Linked DNA regions of Homo sapiens. The protein of the gene in region 1 purifies or fractionates together with the protein of each later gene. This does not show direct contact. Each region holds a gene or a part of one and is shown in the gene's direction. Other genes may lie near its edges.

Region 1 (7,493 bases):
CATACAATGGTTTTAAGAAAATTTTCAGACATAGATATCATGCACATGAAATTCTCTAATCATAATTTAATAAAGTCAAATGACCACAGCAAAAGATAGTTTAAATTCTTATGTGTTTGAAAAATTTTTAAACATTAAAATAACTGAGAAATTGAAGAAAGCATAGTGATAGGTAGAAAATTCTTAAAACTGAATGATAATAAAATTACAATCTATCATAATGTGTAAAATAGAACTAATATAGTTTTCTGAGTCAAAATTTTATCTGGCCGGGCGCAGTGGCTCACGCCTGTAATCCCAGCACTTTGGAAGGCCAAGACAGGCGGATCACCTGAGGTCAGGAGTTCAAGACCAGCCTGGCCATAATGGTGAAACCCCGTCTCTACTAAAAATACAAAAATTAGCCGGGTGTGGTGGCGGGTGCCTGTAATCCCAGCTACCTGGGAAGCTGAGGCAGGAGAATTGCTTGAACCCGGGAGGCGGAGGTTGCGGTGAGCCGAGATCATGCCACTGCACTCCAGCCTGGGCGATAGAGCAAGACTCCATCTCAAAAATATATATATATATATCCTTTAATGCTTAAATGTTCTTATTAGCATGAAATAGCTGAATATTGATATTAGGCATCAATATATATTTCAGAAAACAGCAAAAGAAAGTGGAAGAAATCCTAAAGATATAGAAATATGGAAATATAAAGACAAATAGTGCACATTAATACATCTAAAGTTAGACGGTTCGAAGTGTTATTAAAATAGATAAACTGGCAACATCAGTTAAGAATAAAAGAGAAACAGCACAATTAAACAAGGCAGGAAATAACAAGAAGGCACAACTAAAGATTTAGTAGAGATTTGTAAGATAAACTGCTTTGAATAACTTTTTCCTTTTCTATTGAATATGATGAAGTGAAAGTTTTCATAGAAAAATGTAAAATACAGGACAGGCGCAGTGGCTCATGCCTGTAGTCCCAGCAGTGTGGAAGGCTGAGGCGGGCAGATCGCTTGAGGTCAGGAGTTTGAGACCAGCCTGCCCAACATGGCGAAACCCCATCTCTACTAAAAATACAAAAATTAGCTGGGCGTGGTGGTGTGTGTCTGTAATCCCAGCTACTCTGGAGGCTGAGGCTGGAGAATCACTTAAATCCAGGAGACAGAGATTGCAGTGAGCTGAGATCGCCCCACTGTACTCCAGCCTGGGGGACAGAGTGAGACTTTGTCTCAAAAATTTTTAAAAAAGAAGAAAAACGTAAAATACAAAATCCGAAGGAAAGATAGACTACCTGACTAATTTGTAACCATGAAAGAGGTGGACTCAGCATTTAAAAGTCTTCCCACAAGGAAGACACAAGGCCCACATTGTTTTATATACAAAGTCTACCAAATATTCAAGAAAAGAGAAAATGTATCTTTCAGAAAGTCGGCCAGAGAGCAGAAAAATAGGAAATATTAAACTCATTTTATTGAGTCAACATAATTTTGGTATCATAAGAGAAATGGGCAATTCAAAAAAGGAAAAATTTTTACCAACATTACTCATAATTGAAAATGTAAAAATCTTACCAAAAATTTTGCAAGTAGAAAAGTCCACAAAAACATATATCATGACCAAACTTATCCTGGAAAAAAATGTTAGGTCAACATGGGAACATATATTAATGTAATTATAACATAATTCGTTAAAAGAGATAAACTATAATTTTCTTAGTAGATGTAAATAAAACAGATAACTTTCTACATCTATTCATCATGATTTCAACACTTGCAAATCTAGAAATAGAAGAAAATTTTTTTTATCAATCTAGAAATAGGAGAGACTCTGCTTAATCTGATAAAAAGATATCTAAAGATACTTGCAGCAAACATCATACAAAATAATAAGCCACCTAATTTTTTAAATACATACCGAAAACATTATACATAATGTGTCATTTAAAATCATAACATAGGCCGGGCGCGGTGGCTCACGCCTGTAATCCCAGCACTTTGGGAGGCCGAGGCAGGTGGATCATGAGGTCAGGAGATCGAGACCATCCTGGCTAACAAGGTGAAACCCCGTCTCTACTAAAAATACAAAAAATTAGCCGGGCGCGGTGGCGGGCGCCTGTAGTCCCAGCTACTCGGGAGGCTGAGGCAGGAGAATGGCGTGAACCCGGGAAGCGGAGCTTGCAGTGAGCCGAGATTGCGCCACTGCAGTCCGCAGTCCGGCCTGGGCGACAGAGCGAGACTCCGTCTCAAAAAAAAATAAAATAAAATAAAAAAATAAAATAAAATAAAATAAAATCATAACATAAGGAGATTGCATTAAACACTTCTGTTCCACATTATATTAGAGTACTGTTACTATTAGCAGCCACTTCAATAAGGGAAGAAAATGTAAAAGTTATAACTTTTAGAAAGAAAAAAATTAAATGGCCATTGTTCACAGTTTATATGATGATATAAACGGAAAATTTAGAAAAATTTACAGACAAATTCTTTCAACTCATAAAGGAATCCATCGTGTTCATGAAAAATGAGAGGAATAAACAAAATCTAATAAAATGTTTACAAAATCTTATTGAAGGGTATTATAAAACTGTATTAAAAGACACTAATGAAAACTAAAATAAGAGAACAAACATAACACCTTTCAGATAAGAAGATGCATGTTTTTAAAGATACCAGTTCTCCTAGAATTGCTGTACAGATTCAATACAATTCCATAGAAAAATCTCAGCACATTTTTTGGTTTGTTTGTTTTTTGAGATGAGCTGTCACTCTGTCACCCATGCTGGAGTATAGTGGTGCAATCATGGCTCATTGCAACCTCAATTTCCCATGCTCAAGCAATCCTCCCACCTCAGCCTCCCAAGTAGCTGGGACCACAGGTGTGCACCACCATGCCTGGCTAATTTTTTTTAATTTTAAATATTTTTATAGATGGGGGGGGGTCTCACTTTGTTGCCTAGACTGGTCTCGAACTCCTGTCCTTAAGAAATCCTCCCGGCCAGGCGCGGTGGCTCATGCCTGTAATCCCAGCACTTTGGGAGGCCGAGACGGGAGGATCACGAGGTTAGGAGATCGAGACCATCCTGGCTAACATGGTGAAACCCCATCTCTACTAAAAATACAAAAAATTAGCTAGGCGTGGTGGCGGGCGCCTGTAGTCCCAGCCACTCAGGAGGCTGAGGAAGGAGAATGGCGTGAACCCGGGAGGCAGAGGTTGCAGTGAGCCGAGATCGCGCCACTGCACTCCTCCCTGGGCAACAGAGCGAGACTCTGTCTCAACAAAACAAAACAAAACAAAACAAAACAAAGAAATCTAAAGGAGAAAAGAATAAACATTACCTTTAAAAAAAAAAAGAAATCCTCCCACTTTGGCCTCCCAAACTGCTGGGTTTATAGGCATGAGCCACTGCACCTGGCCCAGAGTTTTCTTAAAGCCTAACAAGTCAATTCCAAAGTTTATGTGGCAAAACAAATAGCCAAGAATTGCTAAGATACAGTGGAATAAGAGCAAGCTAAGAAGCTTAGTCTTATCTCAGAGACATATCCCAAAGCTTTGAAGATTAAGCCAATTAAAATTATTGGCACAGAGATAACCCTATGGATCAATGAGAGAGAACAAAGAGCCCAGAAACAAATCCAAGCTTGAACATGAGGTACACAGAGGTGACCTTGCATGTGTGGCAGTGTGTAAAGCAAGGTCCACTCAACAAACATTGCCAGCACAGTCAACACCTGCTTAGAAGAAGATGACATTGAACTTCTGCCTCATTAGACATAGACACACACACACACACACACACGTGTGTGTGTATATATATATATATATATATATATATGAAATCCAGATGGATCAAGACTTATAAAGAAATGCAAAGCTTTAACGCGCACACACACACACACGTGAATATATATATATATATATATATATATATATATATGAAATCCGGATGGATCAAGATGTTTATAGAAATGCAAAGCTTTAAATCTGTGGAAGAAATGAGAGAAAAATGTTTTCATCTTGGGGTACTGGGGGATTCCTTAAATGGGCGTAAAATTGTCTTACCTGCTTAGCTATCACTAAGGGTCTGTGGGACTGTTTTTCAGAGACGTTTTTCCAGCCCTCACCTTGGCGCCTGGCTTCTATTTTACTCGGGTTACTCTGTGGTGCCCTGTGTGGTGTTGTCATGGGGATGATAATTGTTTTCTTCAAATCCAAAGGTAAGTGAGAGAGAGAAGCATGGGCCCATACCTTCTTCATGGTTCCAGTGGAGCTGATATCAGGCTGCCCTCACACACCTCTGGGCTCTGCTCTTCCAGCCCTAGGCCTACAGGGGCCACCAGCTGAGGCACAGGGAACCCAGTCTTCAGCCTCCTCTGTGCTGGCCTGAAATGGCTCCTTCAGAAAATGCCAGCCTCTGCCAATCCCTTTCTACTTTACATGGAGCACAGGATAAGCAGATAATTGATTTTCAGTACATAAAGAGTTCACATAAATTTCTACCAACAGGCTGAGTGCCGTGGCTCGTGTCTGTAATCCCAGCACTTTGGGAGGCCGATGTGGGAGGATCACTTGAGCCCAGGAGTGTAAGACCATCCTGGGCAACATGGCGAGAACTCCTCTCTACAAAAAATTTTTAAAAAATAAAATAAAATAATTAGCTGGGTGTGGTGGTGCGTGACTGTGGTCCCAGCTACTTAGGAGGTTGAGATGGGAGGATGGCTTGAGCACAGGAGGTCAAGGCTTTAGTGAGCCATGTTCGCACCACTGCACATCAGCCTGGGCAACAGAGTGAGACCCTGACTCAATAAATAAATATATAAAAATAAATAAATTTCTACTAACGACAACAAGAGACAATAAGAAAATTTCAGGGTGGTTGCAAAGACTTCATAGAAGAGGAAATAAAACTGACTGACTGAGATAAAATGATAATCTCAGTAAGAGTCTTCACCCTAGAACAAATTTCCTCCTCCTTGGGAGTGACACTTCCCCTTGGGGGTGAGGCCACCCCCGCCTCCCCTCCCAGCCGCCTTCTCCCATCTCCATCCCCACCTCCACAGCATCCCAGCTGTTGTCCCTCTCCTTAGCATGCACCTTCCTGATCTCTTGCTCCACCCCAGAGAGCCACACTCCGTGCAGGGGCTGGGGAGACGAGCACATATAAGTGTCCTAGGAGAGGCCCTGCCCTTCACACCTGCAGCTCGTCCCACCTGTGCAAGGAGCCAGCGTCGTGTTTGTACCTTGCACACTCCTGTGTCCACCACTGAATATACTGTTTCTGTTTCAGGGAAAATCCAGGCGGAACTGGGTATGTGTCATGTCCTGAGCCTCCCACACATGGTTCTCCCGGGTCCCTCCCTGATCCACAGTTTGAGCCTCTGGACGACCCTGGCTGCAGGCTGGACAGGAAGCACCGGCAGGTGGAGGGGAGCAGCTGCTCACTCTCTCCATCCACTGCTCATGAGTTACCCCTCGGACATCTGGAGGGCTTAGGATAGGCCCCGGGGCCTGGAAGTCCCCACAAATTGTCTGTGCCTGTTGCCCGTTGGTTTGCTGTGTGTGTGGTGGGGGGAGGTGTTGATCATGAGCTCTGAGGGTGTCTGGGCCACAGTGAGGAACCTGAGAAAAATTTGTGGGTGATCCTCGACCTCCCCTGGCCTGATGCTTTGAGACTTTATCCAGTTCTGTATCAACCACTAAATAGTCTGCTTTTTGTTTTGTGGGAACTCCAGGATAAACTGGGTGAGAGTGTTACCACTCGCAGGGATTCCCTCCCACGCCCTCCCTGGGCCCCCGCTCTGTGACGTCAGCCTCTTACATGTTTTTTGTTTTTGTTTTTGTTTTTCAGACTGGAGAAGAAAGCACGGACAGGCAGGTAAAAGAAAATATTCCTCTTCACACATTTATGACTCCTTTCCAAGTCTCTCGTTTATGGATTTTTATATCCTGAGGCCCGTGGGTCCCTGCAGAGCCAAGCTTGTGATGGGAACTCTGAAATTGCAGATTCTGGGGGAGGTGCATTTTGTAGAGAAGCCCCATAGCCTTCTTCAGATCTCTGGAGGGTCCACAACACTCAAAAAGGGTCCCAATCCTTGGTCTTTCCCTTCTCCCTGCGCCCTGTTTCCCACGTGAGCACGGAACTGCCTGCTCTCTCTGCTTGCTTTCAGAATTGAGAGACGCCCGGAAACACGCAGGTACCAACGCCTGAGAGGGTAACAGTGGGCATGGAGTAGGAAGATGACCAGTGACAGATATGGAGCCCATCCAGCTTGTAGACAGCAAATCTGTGATGCCCGAATCCACCCCAGGGTGCAGCTGCCTCTAAATACACTTCTTGGCCCAGGACTTGGAGGGAAAAGCGTAGGGACTGGGTCAGCTAGGAGGGGTCACAGGCAAGACGCCAGGGAACTGAGGGCATTAGTAGCTGGCTTCTAGGGGTCTGTGCAAAGGGGAACTAAGTGAAGTTAGCAGGAACTGGTGGGTGGAAGGAAGCTGAATCCTGGAGTCACTCAAGGTCTCACAAAGTCAAATAGAGGGCTTACGTGGGAGGGCAGTGGTAGGGCTGGGTGAACATCTCATGGTTGAGCATCTCCAAGCATCAGTGAGGCACGGGGGCTGCCCTGGAGAAGGTACATGGCTGGTGGGATAGTGGGACTGGCCGGATCCTACCCGGAGCCAGTCTGCAGTGGGAGGGTCGACCTCTTGCTCCAGCCCAGATTTCGTCTTCAGTAACTCATGCTTCCTCTCTCCCCCACCGCACCCCAGTGGAGGTGACTCTGGATCCAGAGACGGCTCACCCGAAGCTCTGCGTTTCTGATCTGAAAACTGTAACCCATAGAAAAGCTCCCCAGGAGGTGCCTCACTCTGAGAAGAGATTTACAAGGAAGAGTGTGGTGGCTTCTCAGGGTTTCCAAGCAGGGAAACATTACTGGGAGGTGGACGTGGGACAAAATGTAGGGTGGTATGTGGGAGTGTGTCGGGATGACGTAGACAGGGGGAAGAACAATGTGACTTTGTCTCCCAACAATGGGTATTGGGTCCTCAGACTGACAACAGAACATTTGTATTTCACATTCAATCCCCATTTTATCAGCCTCCCCCCCAGCACCCCTCCTACACGAGTAGGGGTCTTCCTGGACTATGAGGGTGGGACCATCTCCTTCTTCAATACAAATGACCAGTCCCTTATTTATACCCTGCTGACATGTCAGTTTGAAGGCTTGTTGAGACCCTATATCCAGCATGCGATGTATGACGAGGAAAAGGGGACTCCCATATTCATATGTCCAGTGTCCTGGGGATGAGACAGAGAAGACCCTGCTTAAAGGGCCCCACACCACAGACCCAGACACAGCCAAGGGAGAGTGCTCCCGACAGGTGGCCCCAGCTTCCTCTCCGGAGCCTGCGCACAGAGAGTCACGCCCCCCACTCTCCTTTAGGGAGCTGAGGTTCTTCTGCCCTGAGCCCTGCAGCAGCGGCAGTCACAGCTTCCAGATGAGGGG
Region 2 (8,398 bases), on another chromosome or scaffold:
CCTGGGATTACAGGCATGTGCCACCATGTCCAGCTAATTTTTGTATTTTTAGTAGAGACAGGGTTTCTGCCATGTTGGCCAGGTTGGTCTTGAACTCCTGGCCTCAAGTGATCAGTCTGCCCTGGCTTCCCAAAGTGCTGGGATTACAGGCATGAGCCACTGCGTCCGGCCTATTCCACAATCTTTTGCAATACCCATTGTTGCTACCAATAATCACTTGACCATGTAAAATTTCTTCCCTACTGACATTCCATCCCATGTCACCACTGGCAATAATTTGAATAATCTTGCTGTCATTGCATGCTACACATTATCACTATCAAGAATGAATCTCATCATGAGGTTGTCAAATATGTGTTTAAACTGGTCCTAGAATTCCAACTTGAGGAACTGTTTCTGGGAGCCACTCCTTGTGCCAACTAGAGTCAGGTCTGACAGTAAACAGTATCTCACTCCAATGGTTCAAAAGATTTTAAGGAAGAAACTATATACAAAAGTGTGGGGAGGATTAAGGGAACCAATAAAGGATGCTGAAGTCTCCAGAGACTACCAACAGGGGAAACCATTGTCACTCCTAGGTCTGAAGGGGCAAGGAGAGAAAATATTACTGTTGCTCAGAGAGGGTTGGAGGATCATAGGAGGAAGTTCTACCTCAAAAGCTATATATATAGTGGGATGTAGCTCCTGCCAGCAAATATGGCTCAGAGCTGACAGGGAGCAAAACAGGAGGCTTCTAAAGCTGCTCTCTTCTCAGCCTTAGCCTATTGATGCCTCTTGGTGGAATTAGAAGCAAGCTCATAAGAAGCCCAGGTGGCGTAGTCTGAAGGAATGAACATCAGTGGTGACAGTTGCATGGTAGACACACCTGACAGTGATAACGTAAGCATACCCTGAGAATGACCCTATATTCTAAGAAGATTGTGTGTTCACAATTCCAATCTAAGGAATCTAGTAGTAGCCAACCAGAGATTCATTTGGAGGTTGTTGTCAGCTGGGACTCCAAACTGCACTCCAAAGCTGGGACTCACCACTGCACTCCAAACCTGGGTCACAAAGTGAGACTCCGTCTCAAAAAAGAAAATTAAGGCCAGATGCGGTGGTTCACGCCTGTAATCCCAGCACTTTGGGAGGCCAAGGCAGGTGGATCACGAGGTCAGGAGTTCGAGACCAGCCTGGCCAATATGGTGAAACCCCGTCTCTACTAAAAATACAAAAATTAGCCGGACGTGGTGTCGCGTGCCTGTGGTCTGAGCTACTCAGGAGGCTGAGGCAGGAACATCACTTGAACCTGGGAGGCGGAGGTTGCAGTAGGCCGAGATTGTGCCACTGCACTCCACCCTGGACGACAGATGGAGACTCCATCTCAAAAAAAAAAAAAAAAGAAAAAAAAAGAAAAAAAAAATAAATACATTTGTAGGAGTTTTTAAAGCCACAGAGTTTAAAACTTTTGTGGTTTTTAGACTTTTTTTAGAGACTAGGTCTCACTATGTCACCCAGGACAGAGGGCAGTAGCACAACCATAGCTCACTATAACCTTGAACTCCTGGGCTCAAGTGAACTTCTGAGTCTCCCAGAGTCCTGGGATTATAGGTGTGAGCCATTGTGTGCGGCCCAAAAACTATTTTTTTTTTTTAGAGACGGAGTCTCGCTCTGTCGCCCAGCCTGGAGTGCAGTGGCACGATCTCAGCTCACTGCAAGCTCCACCTCCCGGGTTCATGCCATTCTCCTGCTTCAGCCTCCTGAGTTGCTGGGACTACAGGCGCCACCACCACGCCCAGCTAATTCTTTTTTGTATTTTTAGTAGAGACAGGGTTTCACCATGTTAGCCAGGATGGTCTCGATCTCCTGACCTCGTGATCTGCCCGCCTCGGCCTCCCAAAGTGCTGAGATTACAGGCATGAGCCACCACGCCTGGCCCCAAAAACTATTTTTTAATTCAACATGAGTACATGTTGAAGAGAAGAAGTATGACAGGTGATGAAGAAAATTACTTTCAAGGATAAAAATAATTTCATTAGAATAAAATTCTGTCGGATAAGTGCAATAAAAATAAGTTCAGAAAAAGGAACCATGGAAAATTTCCAGTTGTTCACAAAAAGTGTATGGGTTTTTTGTTTTGTTTTGTTTTGTTTTGGGTTTTGTTTTTGTCCAGGCTGGAGTGCAGTGGCGCCATTTTGGCTCACTGCAACTTCTGCCTCCCGGGTTCAAGTGATTCTCCTGCCTCAGCCTCCTGAGAAGCTGGGATTACAGGCGCATGCCACCACACCCAGCTAATTTTTGTAATTTTAGTAGAGGCGGGGTTTCCCCATGTTGACCAGGCTGATCTTGAAGTCCTGACCTCAAGTGATCTGACCGCCTCCGCCTCCCAAAGTGCTGGGAATACAGGTGGAGCCACCGTACCTGGCCAAGTTTGTGTGTTTTTAAAAAAAGTCTTATAGTTATCACATCACTATTATATTTACATTCCTTTTCATACACTTAAAAGAGAGCTGTAACAATTTCAAAACGTGAATATTTATAATATGACAGAAATTTAATCCTTTAAAGTCAAGATAAAAATTTTAGATGTCAATACAAAAAATGTGTGAAAAGATATATATGTGTGTATGTGTATATATATATTATATATATATTATTTATATATGCTTTTAGGGAGTATCTGGGCAAAACGTTTTAGGAACACAGGAAGAGGAGGTAGATGTCTAGTTTAGAGACTCACACTATAAAATATGGTGCCCTGACAATTTCTGGAATTTTTGTCTCTTTTTTACAGCCCTCAAAGTTCAGAGAGTCTCAGGATGTAGGTCAATTTAGGACTAAAAGAGAATTCTAGATATCTTGAAGGATTGGTACCTAAGATTACGGTACCTAAGATTACGGTTATATGGCTACCTTATGCAGTTAAAACTCTTATGTTTGGCCGGGCGGGGTGGTTCACGCTTGTAATCTCAGCACTTTGGGAGGCCCAGAGGGGCGAATCACGAGGTCAGGAGTTAAAGACCAGCCTGGCCAACATGGTGAAACCCATCTCTACTAAAAATACAAAAATTAGCTGGGCATGGTGGCGCGTGCCTGTAATCCCAGCTACTCGGGAGGGTGAGGCAGGAGAATTGCTTGAACCTGGGAGGCGGAGGTTGCAGTGAGCCGAGATCCCGTCACTGCACTCTAGCCTGGGCTACAGAGGGAGACTACGTCTCAAAAACAAACAAACAAAACAAACAAACAAAAAACTCTTACATTTACTGTTTTGAAAACCTATTGGGAACATCAGTTTGACAAGAAATATCTTTAAAATTCTGAACAAGAGACTTAAAAATGAACTTTGAACATACGACAGTTTAAAGCACATTTATATGCAGAGAAAGACTTAAAAATACAATTTCTGCCAAGTGAAATATTAAACAGCATGTTTCATTATATTTGCTATAGATGCCAAAAGAGTTGCCATTTTCAATGAGGTATGTTTCCTGCTTATGTAACAGTCATTTATCATAGAAGCTGTAAAATGCAATCTGGAATTTCTCTTGCCAAATTGCTGCCTGTTCTTGACATTTTATATTATTAAAGCTATAAAATCTATAAATACTTTTAGCACACTTTCACTAAAAGCAGCACTAGTAAGTAGCAGGCCTTGTCTTGTATTTCAGTAGCCACGTCAAAACTTCTGAGCCAGGCGAAATAGAAAGAGGGGTCCTAGGGTATTTTATGCCCAGGGCAACAAACGCCAAATGCTGACGTAGATAGCACTTATTCGGTTTTGCCAGGAGCTGTGCTAAGTGATTTTCATAAAATATGTAATTTAACCTACAGGCAACTCCATGTGGTATTATTTTCACTTTTTTACATAGAAGGAAATGGAAGCTTAGAAAACTGAAGCAATTTACCGAAAGTCAGAGTTAACAGAGCAAGGAAACCTGAACAGTGTGCAGCCTCCGCTCACCAGAAAGTGTCAAAGAATCACATTTACTAGTACTTCAGACAGAAATTCTGCGAAACAAGGCGTATCTACTCTTGTTTTACTCCCAGACACTTCCCTGTCCCGCTTAGATCAGTGGTGGTTTTCACTCAAATTTAAGTGTGTAACAGTGTCCCCGGGAGGGCTCTGTTCAAACAGATTGTTGTACGCGCCCCCTACCCCTGCCCACCCCGAGTGTTTGATTCAGTAGGTCTAGTTTGGGATCGAGAATCTTTTTATTTTGTTTTCCTTTTGTTTTGTTTTGTTTTGTTTTTGAGACAGGGTCTCGCCCTGTCGCCCAGGCTGGAGTGCAGTCGTGCCATCTCGGCTCACTGTAGCCTCTGCCTCCCCGGCTAAAGTGATCCTCCAGCCTCAGCCTCCGGAGCAGCTGGGGCCACAGGCAAGCGCCACCACTGTAGGCTAATTTTTTTTTTTTTTTTTTTTTTTTTTTTGTAGAGACTGGGGTCTCACTATGTTGCCCACGCTGGTCTCAAACTCCTGGGCTCAAGCGATCCTCCCGCTTCAGCCTCCCAAGGTGCTGGGATTACAGGTGGAGCCACCGCGCCCGGCATCGATAATCTGAATCTCTAACGAGCTCCCGGGCGACGTTGATGCAGCTGGTACCGGGACCACTCTTCGAAAATCATCGGTTTAGAGGTTTTAATTCTGAATCCATTGCGAAAACTGTTGGGCGGACAGAGCACTACTAACTCCTAACTTTTCTCAGAAAGCTGGGCTCTGCTTTCGCCAGCAACCCGGTCCGAAGTCGCGGGCATATTCTGTCTGAAATCGTGTGCACCGAAATCCCCGCCTTGCGGTGGAGGCTGGCGCTAGGCGGCCTCAGCCTCGGCCTGCTGCGCTCAGGAACCCGCGCCCCGGCTCCTCGGCGATCCATTGCTCTTTCCTCTGGCGCCGGCCGCAGGCCTCGGTCACGCCCCCAGCGGCCCGTTGGTTTCCGGGTCCCGCGGGGTGCCCCCGCCCACACGCTATGCCTTAAATTGGGCCAGGCTGAGGCGCTGCTGCTGGAGCGGCCGATCCGAGACGTGGCTCCCTGGGCGGCAGAACCATGTTGGACTTCGCGATCTTCGCCGTTACCTTCTTGCTGGCGTTGGTGGGAGCCGTGCTCTACCTCTATCCGGTGAGCGCCGTCTTGGCTCTCTGGGGCCCCGGGCGCCGCCCCAGTCTCTCTGTCGCCGGCATCCAGGCCAACCTGCCCGCTGCGGGCCGCAGGGGGCGGGCCTGAGAGGAGGGTTCGGGTTCGCTCCAGAGCTTCAGCGCGGGGACCGCACCCGGAGTCACGTGACGCCCCTCCCGGCAAGCTCTGAGAGCGACGTGGGCTGCGTCGCTACCCCTCAGGCGCCGGGCCAGGCGGGCGTAGAGCTGCTGAGGAAAAGCCCGCGCCCCCGCAGGCCGGTCTCACCTTGCCAGGCACCCCGCGCCACTCTCCAAGGCGGCTCTCAAGTACTTTGGGCAGCTTTTTGGCCATAACTCGCCAAACCCAAATTTCATTTCCCAGTGTGTCAGGACGAGACTCCTGGGCGCGCCACTCCTTTCTCCTTTCTTGAGGATTCTCCCAGCACTTGTGTATTCCTCTTTTCCATCTGTCCATCGATCTATCCTGACTGGAATCCAAAGTGCTCGAGGTCCAGGTCTTGCTCCTCTTAGGGGCTCCAGGCAAATGCTTCTTTGGGGAGAGCGCCGCGCTGCGGGTTCGGGTGCGAGGTTTCCTCTGCCGCTGACGCCTCTGCGAGCCTCCGGTCCTCCTCTCTCCACTTGCCTCCGTCAGCGAGAGAGGGAGGGTCTGAAAACAAAAGTGTTGATGACTGAGGACCGTCTTTAAAACCTGTTCTACACACTTTGGGAGGCTGAGGCGGGCGGATCACGAGGTCAGGATATCGAGACCATCCTGGCCAACATGGTGACACACCGTCTCTACTAAAAATACAAACATTAGCTGGCTGTGGTGGCGGGCGCCTGTAATCCCAGCTACTCAGGAGGCTGAGGCAGGAGAATCGCTTGAACCTGGGAGGCGGAGCTTGCAGTGAGCCAAGATCGCACCACTGCACTGCAGCCTGGCGACAGAGCCAGACTCTTATCTCAAAACAAACAAACAAACAAACAAAAAACACCTGTTCTACAAAGCAAGGTGGTGGTTTTACAGTGAAAGTTGAAAAGTAGCTGAACTGCTGGAATTGACCATACACCTTCTTAAATGTTCTTTTCCGAGCAGGTAAATGGATTAGACTAGAATCTTGCAACTACACAATCAGGGACTTCCTGAAATCTTATTTTCTGAGAAACTAAACAATTTTAGTGGTTCTTGAATTTTTGGTGATTTTAAAATGATACTCTTCTTTGATCAGCTCATAGAAGCACACTGTTTATTCTTAGCACTAGCTATGTGCCAGATATGGTTCCACGTGCTGGGAATCCAGCCGTGAAACAAACCGGACAGAAAATTCCTGACTCTTGGAATTTATTTCCTAGAGAAGGGGAACAGACAATAGAAACAAATAACATAGGATTGTGGGTAGAAATAAAGTTGGGGATAGGTAGATTGTTATTTTAAAGTAGGATGGCCAGGAGATACGGAGACATTTGAGTAGAAACGCGAAGAAGGTGAAGGTGCAAGCCATTCTGAGAAAGAGCATTCTGGGTCGAGGGAGCAGCAAATGCAAACCTTCAGAGGGAGACACGCCTGGTGTGTTCCTGGAAAGCAAGGGGACCAGTGTGGTTAGAGTGTAGTAAATGAGGAAGATACCAGAGGAGAGAAAGTCAGAAAGATGGGAGTGAAGGACAAATTTTAAATGACTTGTAAGGCTTTTTTAATGGACTTTTGCTGTGTGCCACTGGAGGATTTCAGCAGATGAATGCCATTTGAAATTGGATAGAATTCAAATTTAATTTTATTAGATAAATTTTAAAAGAATCATTGTGGTTGCTAAGTCATGAATTGACATGGGTCTCCAGGTAAGGATGGAAGCAAGCCAAGTAATTAGGAGGATATTATCATTTCAGCTTGGATCATGGTAGTAGTGGCACAGATAATGAGAACTAGTCAATTGTGAAGATAGTGCCAATGGGATTTCCCAGTGGATTGGATGTGAAATGTGAAAGAGAGGCATCAAGGAAAACACCAGTTATTTTTAGCCTGGTATCTGGAAGGATAGATTAATTCCAGGGAAGATCAGGGGTTTTGCTGGTGGTGGTTGTTCTTTAGTTTTGTTTTGGTGGGAGGTAGTGGGGATTTATAGAGATTAGGAGTTGGTTTTGGGTGGGCTAGGTTTGAGATGCCTGTTAGACATTCAAGTGGAGATGTTGAGGAGTAACTGAATATATGTCTTGAGTTTATGGGAAAAGTCCAGGCTGAAGATACACATTTGGGAGCTATCAATGTATAGATGGTATTTAAAGCGAGGAGAACTGGTTGCTATCTCCCAGACAATTTAGATACAGGAGAGAAGAGGTCCCAGGGACCATTCCCTGGATTCTCCAATGTTAATGGTTGAGGAGAGAAAGAAGAGCCAGCAAAGGAGACTGAGAAGGAGCAGCCACACAAATAGAAGGAAGCCAGATGTTTTAAGCAGAAGAGGATAATCAGCTAAGTCAAATGCTGCAGATATTTTAAGTTAAGGCCTAATAATTTGATAACATTGGTAATCTTTATTTTTTGTTTTGTTTCATTTAAGAGACAGAGTCTCACTCTTGCCCAGGCTACAGTGCAGTGGTACCATCATAGCTCATTGTAACCTCAAACTCCTGGCCCCAGGCGATCCTCGCACCTTAGCCTCTCAAGTTGCTGGGACTACATGCTCATGCCACCACACCTGGCTAATTTTTAAATTTTTTATTTTTTATTTTTTGATACAAAGTCTCGCTCTGTCGCCCAGGCTGGAGTGCAGTGGCATGATCTCTGCTCACTGCAGCCTCTGCCTCCCAGGTTCAAGCGATTCTTCTGCCTCAGCCTCCCAAGTAGCTGGGACTGCAGGCACACATCACCACACACAGCTAATTTTTTTATTTTTAGTAGAGACAAGATTTCACCGTGTTGGCCAGGCTGGTTTCGAACTCCTGACCTCAAGTGATCTGCCCACCTTGGCCTCCCAAAGCACTGGGATTACAGGCATGAGCCACCGTGCCCAACCTAATTTTTTAATTTTTTAATTTTTTATAGAAATGGGGTCCTGCTTTGTTGCCCAGGCTGGTCTCGAACTTCTGGGCTGAAGTGATCCTCCTGCCTCAGCCTTCCAAAGATCTGGGATTACAGGCATGAGCCACCGCAACATTTGTAATCTTAAGAAGAGCGGTTTCAGTGTAATTGGGGTGATAAACCTAAATGGTGTGGATTCAGAGATATCAAGTATAGATAGCTCTTTAGAGTTTTGCAGTAAAGGGGGCTGATAACTAGAGAAGGAAGTGAGGTGAATTTCTCTTAAGGTAGGA

Evidence for each region. The genes of interacting proteins can lie anywhere in the genome.
Region 2: the proteins of BTNL3 (region 1) and CYP20A1 purify together in Homo sapiens (affinity purification with mass spectrometry; 2 studies listed by BioGRID and IntAct, with this or other methods). This does not show direct contact.

The regions. Positions count from the first base shown.
Region 1 is NC_000005.10:180,998,578-181,006,070, forward strand, and holds part of BTNL3 (butyrophilin-like protein 3 precursor), read left to right. Parts: intron 1-4,094; coding exon 4,095-4,208; intron 4,209-5,278; coding exon 5,279-5,299; intron 5,300-5,839; coding exon 5,840-5,866; intron 5,867-6,158; coding exon 6,159-6,185; intron 6,186-6,756; coding exon 6,757-7,295; 3' UTR 7,296-7,493.
Region 2 is NC_000002.12:203,234,042-203,242,439, forward strand, and holds the start of CYP20A1 (cytochrome P450 20A1), read left to right. Parts: upstream 1-4,976; 5' UTR 4,977-5,021; coding exon 5,022-5,093; intron 5,094-5,299; exon of another isoform or gene 5,300-6,185; intron 6,186-8,398.